Regions from separate parts of the Homo sapiens genome. Here region 2 is linked to region 1. A link means that fine-mapping ties the variant in region 1 to the expression of a gene that starts in the linked region. Tissue or cell type: whole blood. Region 1 holds a variant in brackets; the other region holds the start of a gene. All regions are shown on one strand. Distances are between the middles of the regions.

Region 1 (8,108 bases):
AGCTGGGCACAGAGGCATGCATTTGTAGGGCCAGCTACTTGGGAGAGTGAGGCAGGAGGATCACTTGAGGCCAGGATTTCAAATCCAGCCTAGGTAACACTGAGACCTCCATCTCGTAAAAGGCACAAAAACTAGTTAGAGATGAAATTGAGCTTTATTTTAAAAAAACGTTCTAAAGCCTGATAATTGGAGAGCTATACTTCAGCTTTTCATCCTACTTTAATGAAACAGCTAGATAGGAACCTCTGCTCCAGAATTGCCAGATAATTATTGGTGGGTCATAACTATTCTTCATATTTTTTTTTTCTTTTTTCTCCTTTGGTTTCTGTGTTATCTTTCTTAACCTCACGTATTTCTTTATCCTTTTTAGTGGGGGCCTGTAATTGAGGCTAATTCAATAGCAACAATAGACAACATGATATGGCTGCTGTCACTTTGAAACCCAAAAGGTCTTTGGGTAGGAATAGAGTAATGAAAGAGGACCAGTCAACTTCAGTATATATACAAAGGAAAGACAAAGAGATGATAAACCAAGGCTGAGGAAATTTTTCTGATGCTTTCTTCATTTCTCTAATATACCTTTTGCATTCTTTTTCTGATAATTGTGCTATTAGGCAGAAGACACAAGTTACCACGTTGTGTATTAAAAGCAGTAGGTAGGTTGTGCCAGTATTTTTTCAGCCAGTAAGCATATACAGTTAACTTATATAATTAAAAATTGGTTTAAGATAGTGATTAAAAATACCTGAATATTATGTTAAAAGTATACAATCATTGTTTCTGTAATGATGATGGGTATTCTGCTTCTTGTTTTTCATTGTAATTACAGGGGAAGATTGTTTTTGAAAATGTATATTGCCATGCTTTTGGGGTAAGCAGTAATGTGAAAAGAAAAAAGCATTATGTTATTGTATGAAATATAAGTGTTCAGATTTGTTTTGTCTGGGGTGTTGCCTAAGAATACCCTAAAGCTATGGCTGTTACTGCATTGAAATCTTTTTTTTTTTTAATAGTAGCCATATGTTATTAGTGGAGTACTTTATATTTGACATTAAAGTGAAGAAGAAGAGTAGTACTTCACTTTTAGGTTTTTAGTAGTGAAAGATAAAATTGGAAAAATAGGGAAAGAGCATAGGGAGGAATAGAATGGAAGTCAAGTAAATAAAAAACTACAACCTGACAGTTTTTTAAATCACTTTGAAAAGTACATTACTTTTATCAAAGAGTTTCTAATTAAGGCAAACTATGCATTATGCCAAATATTAAGAACATTTTAAAAATGGATTGTGATACTGTTTATTTCTTTAATTATATAATTTGCAATTTTCTGTATTATAAGTGCTACCAGGATTCTAGATAGTTGATCTTACATATTCAGATAGTATAGTTTACTCTTATAATTACCCGTTACGTTATCTCTAAAAGTAGTTTGATCTGTGCCTTTAACTTTTAGAATTCATCTTTTGACTTGTTTGCCACTGTAGAGTTTTCAGTTTTCTCTGTAGATTCAGTGTGACAAAGAGGGAATACATAATTTGTGACCATTTAAGATGCTGATATTTTCTGGAAAAGGATATAGATAGTAGTAGTGACCCGCAGGAGCCTCACAATAATGTCTAAAGATATAAACTGAGTAGATCCCTAAGTACTCTTCTCTAAATTATAAAATGCATTACCTAGGCTTTAATAGTTAAAAGCTGGAATTTATTGAACCGCATCTACTTGATTTCATAATATGCATTGATTTTAGTATGTTGCTGTTCTGTTATCTGTAATCAACTATAACAGAGTAATATATTTGGTGTTCTGGACCAAAATTCGTGCTACACATATGTCTGATGGCCTTTACCTTTTCAAGAAAACAGTTGCAATTTTGAGCAAAATTTTCCTAGTTGTAATATTTTAATAGTGTTATGTATTGGAAAAAATTTAGAAATACTCCTAAGAGTTTTCAATTTCAAGCAGAAATGCTTCTCTTCTAAATAAATACCACTTAATTGATAGACCTTTAGCAGTTCTTGTGCTATCTAGGATTTATACATTTTTGCTTTTCTGGAAAACTGCTTTGGCGCATTAACCTTTCTACTGCAACATTTTCTCTTCAGTAGATATATGAGTAAACATGATGAGTTAATGTTACACAGCATACCCAGTTAGGTCTCTTATTCTTAAAGCATCTTTCTTTAGAAGTCTGCACATATTTTCAAATGCATCATATTAAAGGCACAAGTCAAGAGGAGGTGGAGTTGCCTACTTCAGTGGCCTTTATTCCCACTATACCAGTTCTCAGTCTTGATTTTGATACTTTCTGGCAACTGTATCATCTCTTCACTATCACGTATTTTAAGAAAAAGCTAAGGTGATTTCTTTACATTTGAACATGTGTAGATCAATGAGAGAATGGTGAGGGATAGCAAGGATAAAGTATAATGTTGAAAAGTAGAAAGAAGTGGTATCTGCTAAACTCTAGCTTTAGTAGCAAGCTATTTTAAGGAAATCATTGTATGTGGTACTTCCTAGAAATATGAAAGTTCCTCATTTTGTATTTAATTATGTAAGAAAATGTTCTAGGAAAAGAATAAAAAACATATATTGTCAAAGTGCCCTTTGGTAGTGCTCCCAAATGGTAGTAACTATTGGTCTCTAGTATATACTCCTCAAATATCTTTTTGCTATGTATTAATATATCTATATGTTTACATATAGAAATACATAGTGTTGTGGGTTTTAAATTTTCACATAAATTGTGTCTTACCCATGTGTTTTGCCATTTGCCTTTTCTCTTGCCAACGTGTCTAGGAGCTCTTTGGTAAATACAGACTTTTTCATTTTATTTCCTCCCACATTTCTATGGATGTGTCTTGCCTTTTTCTTTTTTTTTTCTTTCTTTTTTTCTTTTTTAAAATAGCCTCTGACTCCATGAAACCTGAAAAGGAATCTGGTCTGTTAGGTGGATTTCATTAGTATCCAAATTTATTTATTTTTTTATTTCATTTTTTTGAGACAGTCTCGCTGTGTCACCCAGGCTGGAGTGTGGTGGCTCAGTGATAGTTCACTGCATCCTTGAACTCATGGACTCAAGCAATCCTCTTGCCTCAGCCTTCTGAGTAGCTGGGACTACATGTGTAAGCCACCATGCCTGGCTAATTTTTGTATTTTTCATTTTTAGTAGAGATGGGAAGTCTTGCTGTGTTGCCCAGGCTGGTCTTGAACTCCTGGCCTCAACCATTCCTCCCACTTCAGCCTCCCAAAGTACTGAGATTACAGATGTGAGCCACTAGGCCCAGTCAGTATCATAGAATTTAAATGCAAGCCAATGCTTAGACAGAATCAGGGTCTGCTTTAAGCATGTGAATCAGGAAACTAGAAGGCCTCTTGTAATGTATTTGAAGTTCATTACTTTTGGCTGACGGTTGACTGCTTAGTGTATAAAATCTAGGAGTTAACTTTAGCAGATTCTTTTATCAGAATACGTTTTTTATTGGAGGGAAGAAGGAAAAAGAGGAAAGGTATAACTGATGGGGAAAAGTACAAGATAAACTAAAACAAGTCTTTATACAACTCTGACAGCAACTCCCATAACAGGACATGATGCTACCAAAAATTCAAACTTGTATTTGATCTGTGCCTTTAATATAGAGTAAAAACAAAAGTTCCTTTTTAGATCTCCCTTCCCTCATCATCCCACATCCCTTTTTAGAGGTAACCATTGTTAACAGTTTGGTTTGTGTCTTTATTATGCAGTTTTATATTTATATTTGGCCTTTGTAAATTTTCCATTCCCTGAATGGAACTTCTACCCTATATCAAATTCCACCCTCAACTGACCAATTTACCAAGGCCAACTAGAATCATACTTCTTTTTCTGGAAGTTTTTTTTGAGACAGGGTCTTGCTTTGCC[G/A]CACAGACTAGAATGCAGTAGCATGATCATAGCTCATTGCAGCCTCAAACTCCTGGGCTTAAGCAATCCTCCCACCTCAGACTTCGAAGTAGCTGGTATTACAGGTGCATAACACCACCACCCACGCCTGGCTAATTGTTTTGTTTTTTTTGTGGAGATGGCTCTCACTTTGTTGCCCAGGCTGGTTTTTGAACTAGTTTCAAAGTGATCCTCCTGCCTTGGCCTCTCAAAGTACTAGGATAACAGTCATGAGCCACCATGCCCACCCTAGAATCATACTCTTTTAAAGCAAGTTAAATCAGCAGTAATAGTTCTGGAACTAGAAGTTAACTACTTACTGGACTTTTGAGATGTAAGTTTACCATACATCAAGCTTAAAAACTTGTAGCGTTCTGGGAAAGTCAAGTCAAACTCTTGAATGCTATCCTCTGTGGAAATAGGGTTGGGAAAGAGCAATGTACAAGTCCAAGCTCCTTAATACACATAAAACTCTGGGTTGGGCTCATCCTCTTGGTGTATTTTCCTACTTGGAGAGCATTACAGTGTCCAACAATTTATAGGAGCTTCTCTGCACTGTCAAGACTATAGCTTAGCATATGTGTGCTATGACACAAGGTTAAACGTGTGCCCCAGAACAAATGCATTTATTCATGTTTGACTTTAAATGAAAATTCAGAAAGCAGGTTAAGCATATATGTGAGTTTAATAATTGTTTCTGTATTTTAAAAAATTTTAAAACATTCAGCTTTTTATGACTTTGGTTAGTTTCACTCATTTGTTGAGTGCCTTCTGTATGCCCAGTGCACAAACTGCTATGTGCCCAGTGTACATACATGGGAGAACCAGATAGCCAAAGTGCCTTCCTTTATCGTTGGAACCTAGAGATGAGCTGATACCTGTTGCACATAGTCCAAGATATAAGTAATTTATCTGGGGATATAAGGTCACCTGTGCACACATGTTCACATTCTGTGTTTGATCAGATATGTACCTGCCAAACTTTTGGAGTGAGATAATTAGAATGACAGTAGTTGAAGCTGACAGTGAATTTGAGGTAAAGCTGGAAAGAATGTTTTTGAATTTTGCAAATAATACATTTTCAAGCCAGATTAAAATTGAATAACTTACTTTCTAGCTTCAAGGGGGTAATTAAGTGATCCTCTAACCCAAATTGCTTTTCCAAATTTTGTGGTAGCAGTGAATAAACTGATGCCTCCTGCTTATTTAGACAGCAGCCATTTTTGTTTGGTTTGGTTTGGTTTTGCGGTGATTTTTTTTAACCTAGAAAAAATACAATTTAAAAAGCAATCATGTTGTTTTCTTTGCCTTTGACAGATGTGGCCTTGTCACCACACAGTAAGCCAGAACACAATCCATTCCTGAGTCATAGTAGGATAGTTTGTGTAATTCTAAATGCACTCTCCAGTTTAAGAGTGTGGGTCCCTTTTTTTCTATCTGAAATTGAAGATACAGGTCAGAAAGATGGTTTAATGAATATGAATTTTCTAAACATCTTTTCAGTGTCTTTTAAGGATATTTTTGATATTACAATATAATAAAGTTAAATCATCTAGTCCTCCTGGCCCTTCTGGTTAGAAAATAGAGCGAAATCATCCGTTTAAACACACACACACAAACTATCCCATTAGTTGGTTATACACAAGTTACTTTCATTCTTACTAGTTCACAAAAGGTTAGTAAATTTAGTGATTTAATGAGTTCTTCAAAACATAAAAGTCCTGTAAAGGAAAAGCTAGAGGATGTGAGAGGAGTAATTCATCCCCATCAAAAGATTTTAGCCAAAAGTAGTGGCATAAGAAATTTATTTATGCGAAAGACATAATTTTGGGTGAACTTTCTTGAAGATGGTCAGAAAGGGCATTGTTAAAGGAAGGAGATGGTAGATTTTGGGTTCTGGGTTCTAGGTTCTAGGCTAATAATTTACTACTTTGGTATGTTGCCTTGAGGCTGACATTTGCTGCTCTGCTAAGACTAAAGCTGGCCCTTTCCAATCAAAAGTGTTAAAAGCTGGCTGGGAGCCATGGCTCATGCCTGTAATCCAGCACTTTGGGAGGCTGAGGTGGGTGGATGGATCCCTTAAACCCAGGAATTCAAGACCAGTGTAGACAACATGGCGAAACCCCATCTCTATCCAAAAATATACAAAAATTAGCCAGGTGTGGTGGTGTGTGCCTGTAGTCTCAGCTACTCAGGAGGCTGAGATGGGAGGATTGCTTGAGCCTGGGAGTTAGAGGATGCAATGAGCTGAGGTCGCACCACTGCACTCCAGCCTGGACGACAGAGTGAGGCCCTGTCTCAAAAAAAGAAAAAAGAAAAAAAAAAGTTAAAAGTTGTGGCATGGTGGCTCACGCCTGTAATCCCAGCACTTTTGGAGGCTAAGGCAGGTGGACCACCTGAGGTCAGGAGTTCGAGACCAGCCTGGCCAACATGGTGAAACCCTGTCTCTACTAAAAACAAAACAAAACAAAACCATATATATATTATATATATATATATATATATATTTTTTTTTTTTTTTTTTTTTTTTTTTTTGAGACGGAGTCTCGCTCTGTCCCAGGCCAGAGTGCAGTGGCGCTATCTCGGCTCACTGCAAGCTCCGGCTCCCGAGTTCACACCATTCTCCTGCCTCAGCCTCCCGAGTAGCTGGGACTACAGGCGCCCGCCACCACGCCTGGCTAATTTTTTGTATTTTTTTGGTAGAGATGGGGTTTCACCGTGTTAGCCAGGATGGTCTCTATCTCCTGACCTTGTTATCCGCCCGCCTCGGCCTCCCAAAGTGCTGGGATTACAAGCGTGAGCCACCGAGCCCAGCTATATTTATAAATTTATATATATTTCATATATATATTATATATATATAAAATTAACCGGGCATGGTAGTGAGCCCCTGTAATCCCAGCTACTTGGGAGGCTGAGGCAGGAGAATTGCTTGAACCCAGGAGACGGAGGTTGCAGTGAGCAGACCTGGTGCCACTGGACTCCAGCCTCGGTGACAGAGTGAGACTCTGTCTCAAAAAAAAAGTTAAAAGTTGTTAACTAGATGTCGAATTATTTTCATAGTAATCACCATGTGTAAGCAATTCTCATCTGTGGAATGTTTGACAGGGATAAGATTATTGAAAATTGGGGGGAATTTTCTTAAATATGGAACTAAGAGCTAAAGAGTTCAATGATGATTAAGACCACTAGTCTGGCAAGTGACTTTTATTTGTCCTTTTCTATTGATAATGAATTCTAGGAATATGGATGGATTTCATTAGAGAAATAAAAATGAGCAAGATTTGTGATTCAGAATATTAAAAGTTAAGAATCCATGAATAGCCCCTTAAAAATATTGTCAAAGCATCATGGTATTTGTAGTGGTGCTTAAAAAAGAAGCAGCAGCAGCTGTTCTAAGCCAAGCACTGCTTGAAAACAAAACAAAACAGAACAAAACCTTATATTTAATAAAATGGAGAAATTTGGGAATGTCCCTAGCGTAATAATGCCTTCTACTGACATTTAAAGTCAGCTTAAACATCATTAGGGAAGACTATGACTGTTTCTATGACCTCTAGTCACAAATTTAACTAATTTAAGGTTAACTAATACCTCTTTCAGAGTTGGGCAAAAGAAGAAAAAAAAAGCCTTTATTTGTGATCAGTAAATTATAAATTACACAGAAGCTTCCAGCTACCTGGTATTTGCATGAAGAATTCTAAATTTTTTATATGCCATAATTTTTAGTAATGCTGTCCTTGAATTCACTTACATCTCTGCTCTGGTTTTTTGAAGCTCATTAGGATGATACCTGTCATCTCTTGGAAACACTGGAACTAGAGAACTGGAGGTGTTCACCCCCATTTTTTGCTACATTGTTGAAAACTGAGTAGAATTTTGTGTCCAAAAATCCTTAGTCTGTGATGGAATTTTTTAAAGTATATGTGAAGTTTTTTACTTCTTCAGTTTTTCAAGATAATTTTGCTGTTTTTGCTTTTTATTTATTTGCAACTAGAAATTGCATGTGCCAGTTACTTAATTTAATACATCTAATGGGAGATTCAAAGCAAACCATTAAAACTACCATATAAACTCAAATGAAATTTTATGACATTCTAATGTACATACTCGCCAAGAAATGCTACAAGGAGCCTCTCTGCAAATGCCTGATGGGGCACTCTGAGAATTAAACAGGAAATGGACAGGA
Region 2 (8,108 bases), 36 kb before region 1:
TCCAGAGGCTCTAGGGGCTTCTTGTCTTTTCCAGCTCTGGTGGCTGTAAGCATTCCTTGGCTTATGGCTACATTGCTCCATAATCTGCCTCTATGGTCACACTGCCTTCTCCTCTTCTGGGTGTGAAGCATCTCTTTCTGCCTCTCTCTTATAAGGATACTTGTGATTGCAGTTAGGGCCCACCCAGATAATCTCCCCATCTCAAGATCCTTAACTTAAATCAAAAAGACCTGTTTCCCAAATAAGGTAACATCTACAGGCTCCGGAATCTAGGAGCTGATATCTTTAGGGGCCGTTATCAGCCTATTACAATTTACATCTATATTTACCCACTCTGTGCTCAAAAGTATGCCAACCTACTTATTGTAACCCATGAAAACTTGCACTACCTTCTTAAATGTCAACGTAAGCTAAATGTAAAAACTTATTTTAACTTCGAAAATTATTTTGGCTGAGTGTGGTGGCTTATACCTGTAATCCCAGCACTTTGGGAAGCTGAGGCTGGAGGATTGCTTGAGCCCAGGAGTTCAAGACCAGCCTGGGCAACACAGCAAGACACGCAAGATATCGTCTCTACAAAAAAAATTAAAAAATTAACCAGGTGTGGTGGCACACACCTGCAGTCCCAGCTACTCGGGAGGCTGAGGTGGGAGGATTGCTGGAGCCCAGGAGGTTGAGGTTGCAGTGAGCTGTGATTGTGGCACTGTACTCCAGCCTGGGCAGCAGAGTGAGATCCTGTCTCACAAAAAAATTATTTTGTTTTACAATAAAAAAATTTTTAATTGCTTTGATTTAGTGATAAATGCAAAGTAATGCATTTAGTTTCTAAGATGACCAAGCTGTTAAATAATCAAATGCACACAATTTGAAAAGTTGTTGAAAGGATTGGCTGTATCAAAAAGAAGAAAGGAGAAGGCTTAAAGGAAGAACACACAGCCTTCTTCATATGTTTATAGGGAATAGGGATTCGATATATAATGTATAAATATAAACAGAAATAATTAATTGCAGGTGAAGAGAGGCAGATTTCAATCCAATATGAGGAAGTGCTCAGAAAGAACAATGGAAGGTGCTCTCTCAAAATGAAGTTCTTTTCTAGTTCTGGAAGTGTCTATAAATGTGCAAAGACCCTAAGGGGAGGAATGTGGAGGAGAGAGTTGGAAAATATATCTTTAGATACAATCATGAGGATATTTTATAAAACATAGAGTCTCTTTAATGGTTGGTTCTAAACAAATCTAAAATATTATCCTTCTCCAATTCACTTTTCAAATGATAGCCAGAGTGGTCAAATCTGATTATGTCAGTCATCTTACGAAAATCCTTCATTTGCTTAAAGACCCTTTCAGTATTGATCCCCAACTTCCTCATGGTCTCTTCTGGAGTTTTTTTTTCCTCCCTAAATTCTAGTCACATTTACAGTTGCTCAACTTTAGATGCTCCTTCCTATCTAAAGCCATTGAACATGCTGTTATCTCTGTTTGCAGAGCTCTCCTGTCCTTCCTGACTAGGTTACTCTTACCCAAAGATAACTTTCTCCAGGGAAAGCTTCTCTAGCATGCTAAATCAGTTGGGTTCTCATATATGCTTGCAAGATACTCTGAACTGTTTCATCAAGATGAAAGCATTTATTGTACAATTGAGTATGTCTGTCTTCCCTGATAAAATGTAAGCTCTGTGAGGACAGAGACATTTTATCTTGTTGATCACAGTGCCTGGCATATGGTGGGCACATTTAAATATTTGTTGAATGAATTAACCGACTCTCTTTTTTTTTTTTTTTTTTTTTGAGACGGAGTCTTCCTCTGTCGCCAGGCTAGAGTGCAGTGGCGCGATCTCGGCTCACTGCCACCTCTGCCTCCCGGGTTCAAGCGCTTCCCCTGCCTCAGTCTCCCGAGTAGCTGGGATTATAGGCTTGTGCCACCATGCCCAGCTAATTTTTTGTATTTTAGTAGAGATGGGGTTTCACCATGTTGGCCAGGATGGTCTCGATCTCCTGACCTTGTGATCCGCCCGCCTCGGCCTCCCAAAGTGCTGGGATTACAGGCATGAGCCACCACGCCCGGCCTCTTTTTTTTTTTTTAACCTGGTTTGAAGTGTGAAAGAAGTTTGATTTTTAAAAAAATGTTTACCTGACACCAGGTTTCCAGTAAATTTTCAGAAATATTAGTATGATTTCTTGGAGGAGTATGGTTTCTTGGAGGCAGGCCGGGCGTGGTGGCTCACACCTATAATCCCAGCACTTTGGGAGGCCGAGGCAGGTGGATCACTTGAGGTCAGAGTTCAAGACCAGCCTGGCCAACATGGTGAAACCCTGTCTCCACTAAAAATACAAAAAGTAGCGGGGCGCGGTGGTGGGCGCCTATGGTCCCAGCTTCTCGGGAGGCTGAGGCAGGAGAATCACTTGAACCAGGAGGCAGAGACTGCAGTGAGCTGAGATCACGCCACTGCACTCCAGTCTGGGCGACAGAGCGATACTCCATCTCAAAACTAACAATACAAACAAACAAAAAAGAATGGGGATGCAGATGAGAAAAAACAAGCAATCATCGAACAAGCCACCTCAAGGTGGAGTACCATGGAACGTCAGAGGCTTCATGAAAGTCAGAAAAACTGAAGAGCACTTGGGGTTAGGAATTCAAAGGTGGGCAGCTCTTATACAGACCTTGCCCTCAACAAACCTATAGTCTAATGAGAGTCGATAAACACTTAGCAAAGTATTAATAATATCCATGGAGTGTGTAAAGCCCTAGTAAAGGAGGTATACTGGTGGTAAGAAATACCTAATTTTGTGAGGTGGGGGAATGGAAGGATGGGGGAAGGATTGGGTGGTCAGGGACGCGGTTTAAGCTGAGACTTGAAAGATGATGGAGTAGTTGACCAGGCGGTCAGAGGAACTTGGAAGCGCTATGATTCGGGATCCCACAGAGAGAGATTCAAGGGCACCTTGGCAGATATGGTTTACAGTGACCTCTGGTGTGACAGATCATTAGCATTGTGAACATGCAAAAACGATGAAGTTCTGCCCTTCATTTCACCAGAGCTGGGCTCGCCTCAAATTCCTGGTTCCTTATTCCCGCTGGCTCCCACCAACTGAAAAGCAGAGGTGGCTCGCAAGCGGCGGGGCTCTGCCCTAGATTGCCAGTAGGCGCTCGACTCACATCCAGCTCCACCCCGGGAGATGCCCCAGAAGCCCCGCCCACGTCCAGGCACGTTCTTCTGGGGCTAGTCGCAGGGGCCGCCCCGGCACCGGCGCTCACGTGACCCGAGGTGTGACGTAGGAGGAAGGAGACGCCATTAGAGGGAGGCAGAGAGGGATCGTTCTTCGCTTTTCCTCCGGTGCCTGACGTGGTGGGCTGGGGCCCTTCATTCTCGGACTTTCCCTCAGCCCTTCCAGGCCTCGCCCGAGGAGGGCGTGGGGACAGCGCCCGGGTCGGCGGGGCCGGGGCGGTGGGGGCTGAGCCGGCCGTGGCTGTGAAGGCGCTGCCGCGGCTGTCGGGAGGGCGGCGCGACACTCGGGCTCGGGCGGCCGGGAAGCGACGGGATGGCTGCGGCCGGCGGCGGCGGCGGCGGGGCGGCGGCGGCGGGCCGAGCCTACTCGTTCAAGGTGGTGCTGCTGGGGGAAGGCTGCGTGGGGAAGACGTCGCTGGTGCTGCGCTACTGCGAGAACAAGTTTAACGACAAGCACATCACCACTCTGCAGGTGCGGACCTCGGGGAGCGGGAGGGGGCGCCTCAGGGCCCCTACCCCTCCGGGGCTGGGGAAACTTTGCCGCCCTGGTCCCCTGGATGTAGGCTGGCAAATCTCAGGCCTGTCATCTCCGCCTTCGGTTTACCTTTCCGAATTCGCCCTGGGGAATCACCAGGTCGGGGCAGCCTGTAGACGCGAGGACAGGCTGTTGGGAGGGAAGTGGAAGGGCCCTGAAAAGTCCCCAGTGTTCCCCGTGGTGGCTGCGCACGTTGTGGTCTCCGTCCGTGGGCTGTTTTTTCCCATTTACTGCAGTTCCTGGGTCCCAGGTGTCAGTGTTGCAGTCTCCAAATGTTAGCTCCTTTTCTTTCTTTCAGAATTAGGAACTTAGCTGCGTATTTGATTTTGCGAATTAGGTGATTTGTAACTTCAGCGCTTACTGATGACTAAGTGTTTATGCAAGTTCCATTTTGTCCTGAGTAACAGGAATGGCAAAAGAGCCATCTCTGGAGGTTTTTTGAAATGACCGCTTGCCTAGGCGTGTTACGCAGTTTCATTGCAGCCTGCGTGGGTCTGACTTGCGGGTCACTCATATTCTGCGAGGTCGATTGACCCACGCTGAAACATCAAGTGAATACTGGCCAACAATTGGTCCCCAGACTAAAAGCCGCTGCTGTTACTCAGTTTCTTTACCTGTAAAATAAAAGGTCGGCTTTCTTCCACAGGTACATTGGAAAGGTGTTAAAATGTTATCATTGATTGAGAGTGAAGCCAGGCCTTTGAGGGAGTTGTACTCACCCCACCTCTCCCAGAGAAATCAGTTTTGATGTTATTAGGAGAAATTTATCCTACTAATTTGACTTACCAATTTGGTCAAAGGCAGTAAAGTCTAGTGGACTTTTGAGCCTGATTGTCCAGGTTCATGTCTCACCTCCATCCATTTAACTAGCTGTGTCATACTGGGTAAGTTACTTAACCTGTCTGTGCCTGTTTCTTCTGTTAAAATGGCCATAATAGTAGTATCTAGCTCATAGGGTTGTCAGGATAAATATACAGAAAAAGCACTGATGACCTGGTCCAGTGTAAGTTGTCTGCCTTTAATTACCGCCCCAACTTGCACAATAGGTCTTAATTAGTAAATGTGTAGTATGTGAGAACATCGACACTACTTAATAGAATGCGTAATCTCCTAATTGTTGTGACATTGGATGTTTGATGCTATTATTAAACTACTGAGTCTAGAATTTACAAGACGCTCTGGCTCTGATTCCATGTTCTATTTTTACTCCTCTGATTTTACTCGTATGTAAAGCATATCTGAAAAAGTGAGTGCCAGGAAACTGCATTTTTAAAAAATCCTTGTACCAGAACACTGACAAAATTTTAATAATGAATTGTTATTGTTCAGTGTCATTAGTGAGAGCCTGGTGTTTTAGATCAAGAAAATTCACTGGACAAATACCTAGGATCATTTGGAAGTTTAGAGATTTACTTAGGTAAAGTAGTAACAATAGCTAACATTTAGTGAGTTCTTACTGTGCTGATTATTTTGCTTGCTTTCTGTCTGCTTGCTTTAATTCTTATAACACCCTATGAAGTGGATAGTTTAGTGGATAGCCCTACAGCTGAGGAAAAACGTTTAGTTGAGTAATTTTGCTGGCAGTAATATTACCACAAGTCAATGGGGCAGGAGTGTCCAAGCTCAAATTTGAACCCCTGTCTGACTTCAGATTTTGAGCAATTAAATCACATTACCTCGGTATATTGATAAATAACCCATCTAGTGTTTTCCTTTATGCAAAGATCTAAGATAAAAGAAAACTATTGTAATTGAGGTCTCCACGTTTTTTTTCAAAAGATAACTTGAGTCTTGCCCTGTCGCCCAGGCTGAAGTGCAGCAATTTCCACTCACTGCAACCTCCACCTCCTGGGTCAAGTGATTCTCCTGCGTCAACCTCTCAAGTAGCTGGGATTACAGGCACACGCCACCACATCTGGCTAATTTTTTTGTATTTTTAGTAGAAACGGGGTTTCACCATGTTGTCCAGACAGGTCTCGAACTCCTGACCTCAGGTGATTTGCCCACCTTGGCCTCCCAAAGTGCTGGGATTACAGGGGTGAGCCACTGCACCTGGCCATACCCTTTCAACTTAAAAATTACACTTCCATTTTAAATTTCTAAAACATTCTTGAAACTGAAAGCAGAGTAAAGGTTTTTAAATATATGAAAAGCCACTGTACTCCACAGAGGGGAGGATGAAGTTATAGTAGATATCCAGTATTAATATCTGAATTATATTATAGAATTTAGGATTTTGTTGTACACCAATGTATGTAAACAGCAATGTGTCTAATCTCTTTCAGAGATACCAGTTAACCTCATCTTTCTTAACAATTTTTCAGAGGAATTTGATTTATGTGACTTGTAAGACACAACTTTGTATTCTTTTAATTTCCAAATGGAGAGGAAATCATGTCAGAAGATATGAGAGGAAGAGTTCACCTTTTTTCTCGTCAACAGAGTACCTGTCTATGTAAACTACTTTGTATTTTATAAAGTACATTCTCATACATTTCAAAGAATTGCAGGATTGACAGGAATTTAAGACAGTTATGTATGGATCACTATTTTGGTCTTCTAATGTTTAGTCAAGTGATTGTCCCCCTTTTTTTTTTTAACATCTTGGAGGTGAAATGAACTGGTATTATGGAAAGTGGAAAGCTCACTTTGTCCTAAGGTGTCCCATTTCATTTTTAAATTTTTTTTTTTTTCTTTTTGAGATGGAGTCTCACTCTATCACCCAGGCTGGAGTGGAGGGGTGCGATCTCGGCTCATTGCAACCTCTGCCTCCTGGATTCAAGTGGTTCTCCTGCCTCAGCCTCCCGAGTAGCTGGGACTACAGGCATGTGCCACCATGCCTGGCTAATTTTTGTATGTTTAGTAGCGATGGGATTTTGCCGTGTTGGCCAGGCTGGTCTCGAACTCCTGACCTCAGGTGATCCACCTGCCTCGGCCTCCCAAAGTGCTGGGATTACAGGTGTGAGCCACCACTTCCGGTCCTATTTTATTTTTAGTAGTTTTCAGTCCTAATTCTCCCCACTGAGTCTTGGTGTCTCATATGACATTCCTTCTGATAGTTGAAGATAGCTATCTTGTCTTCTCTTGGGTAAACAACTCTGGCTCCCTTAACTGGATCTCCAGTGACAGTGACATCGTTTTAAATCCTTTCACTTTTTTTTTTTTTGGAGGCAGAGTCTTGCTCTAGTGGTGATATCATAGCTGCCTGCAGCCTCCAACTCCTGGGTTCAAGTAATCCTTCCACCTCAGCCTCCAAGTAGCTGGGACCACAGGCGTGCGCCACCATGCTCGGCTAATTTTTTTTTTTTGGTAGAGTTGAGGTTTTGCTATGTTGCCCAGGCTGTTGTAGAACTCTGAGCTCAAGCAATCCTTCTGCTTTGGCCTCTTGAAATGCTGAAATTACAGGTATGAGCCACTGTGCCTGGCCCTTTCACTATTTTGAATCTCTTCTAGGCACTATGTAATCATTGTCCTTTCCTTAAAGTGTGATTCCTTGAGCTGTAGAAATAATTCCAGGTGTGGTGGTTTGAACTGAACAGAGAAGTGCAGGCTGTCACCTCTCCTGTTGAGAATCCTTTTCCAACACTGAAGTAGAAGAGATTCTCTGAGCTTTTAGGGAAGCTCTCAGAATTTCTCTTTGATAAATATTGAATTTGCTGTCAACTGAAACATCTTAGTCTTAATTGCTTCAAAAAAAGGCATTATTTGTATCTCTCAGATTCTCTTTTCTTTGGTATTGTAGTTAAGCTTTTTCTTTTGTTTCTAATATACTTGACCCATTAAGGTTGGCTTTGGTAGATTTGCTCCAATAGTTAAGCCTGTTAATGTCCTTTTTAATTTGGATTCTGTAATTCACAAAACACTGACTGGGCTCCTTTGGGCCAGGTACTGGGTTGGGTCCTGGACATGGCAAAGAATAAGGTGTGGAATCTACTGTCTGGATTAGCTACTTTTTAACTTTGTCATCTGAAAGTTAGGTAAGAATGCCTTTAATGTTCTCAACAGGTCATTATTAAAGACTATGAAAGAAAGCAGAGAGAGAGGGCCAAGTGCAAAGCTCTGCAGCAAGTTTTACTGTAGTCCAGTGATACATGACCAGAAGTGCAATTTTCTGTAGACATATAGAATCTTAGGGGCTTTTTTGGGCCATGCATGGGCCACAGGCCATCCCCTCCTCCTTCCCTTGAGTAAGAAACAGTTGTTAATGGAGTGCTATACATATTAATGATAATGGAAGACTGACTGCTATGGGCTACTACCTAGTGGACACAAATCCCTTAATAAAATGTAAACATTTACTCCAGCATTACAGTTCTCCTTTTTGCCCAAGCTACATCTGTCT

Evidence for each region. PIP is the estimated chance that this variant, and not a neighbour inherited with it, causes the effect.
Region 2: it holds the start of RAB21, and the variant in region 1 is fine-mapped to the expression of RAB21 in whole blood (TOPMed, PIP above 0.99). The same link has a PIP of 0.9 or more in blood mononuclear cells, fibroblasts and lung.

Annotation. Positions count from the first base shown.
Region 1 is chr12:71,788,003-71,796,110 of GRCh38, forward strand. RAB21 (RAB21, member RAS oncogene family) reads left to right here. Exons shown (of 7, transcript NM_014999.4): 7 at 1-8,108. Among named protein-coding and RNA genes, the nearest start is that of RAB21, 37 kb to the left of the region's middle. The variant G/A (reference allele first, on the strand shown) is at 3,902.
Region 2 is chr12:71,751,586-71,759,693 of GRCh38, forward strand. It overlaps RAB21 (RAB21, member RAS oncogene family), which reads left to right and starts at 3,278. Exons shown (of 7, transcript NM_014999.4): 1 at 3,278-3,703. The coding sequence starts at 3,545. RefSeq lists enhancers at 3,050-3,339, 3,980-4,169 and a silencer at 3,320-3,599.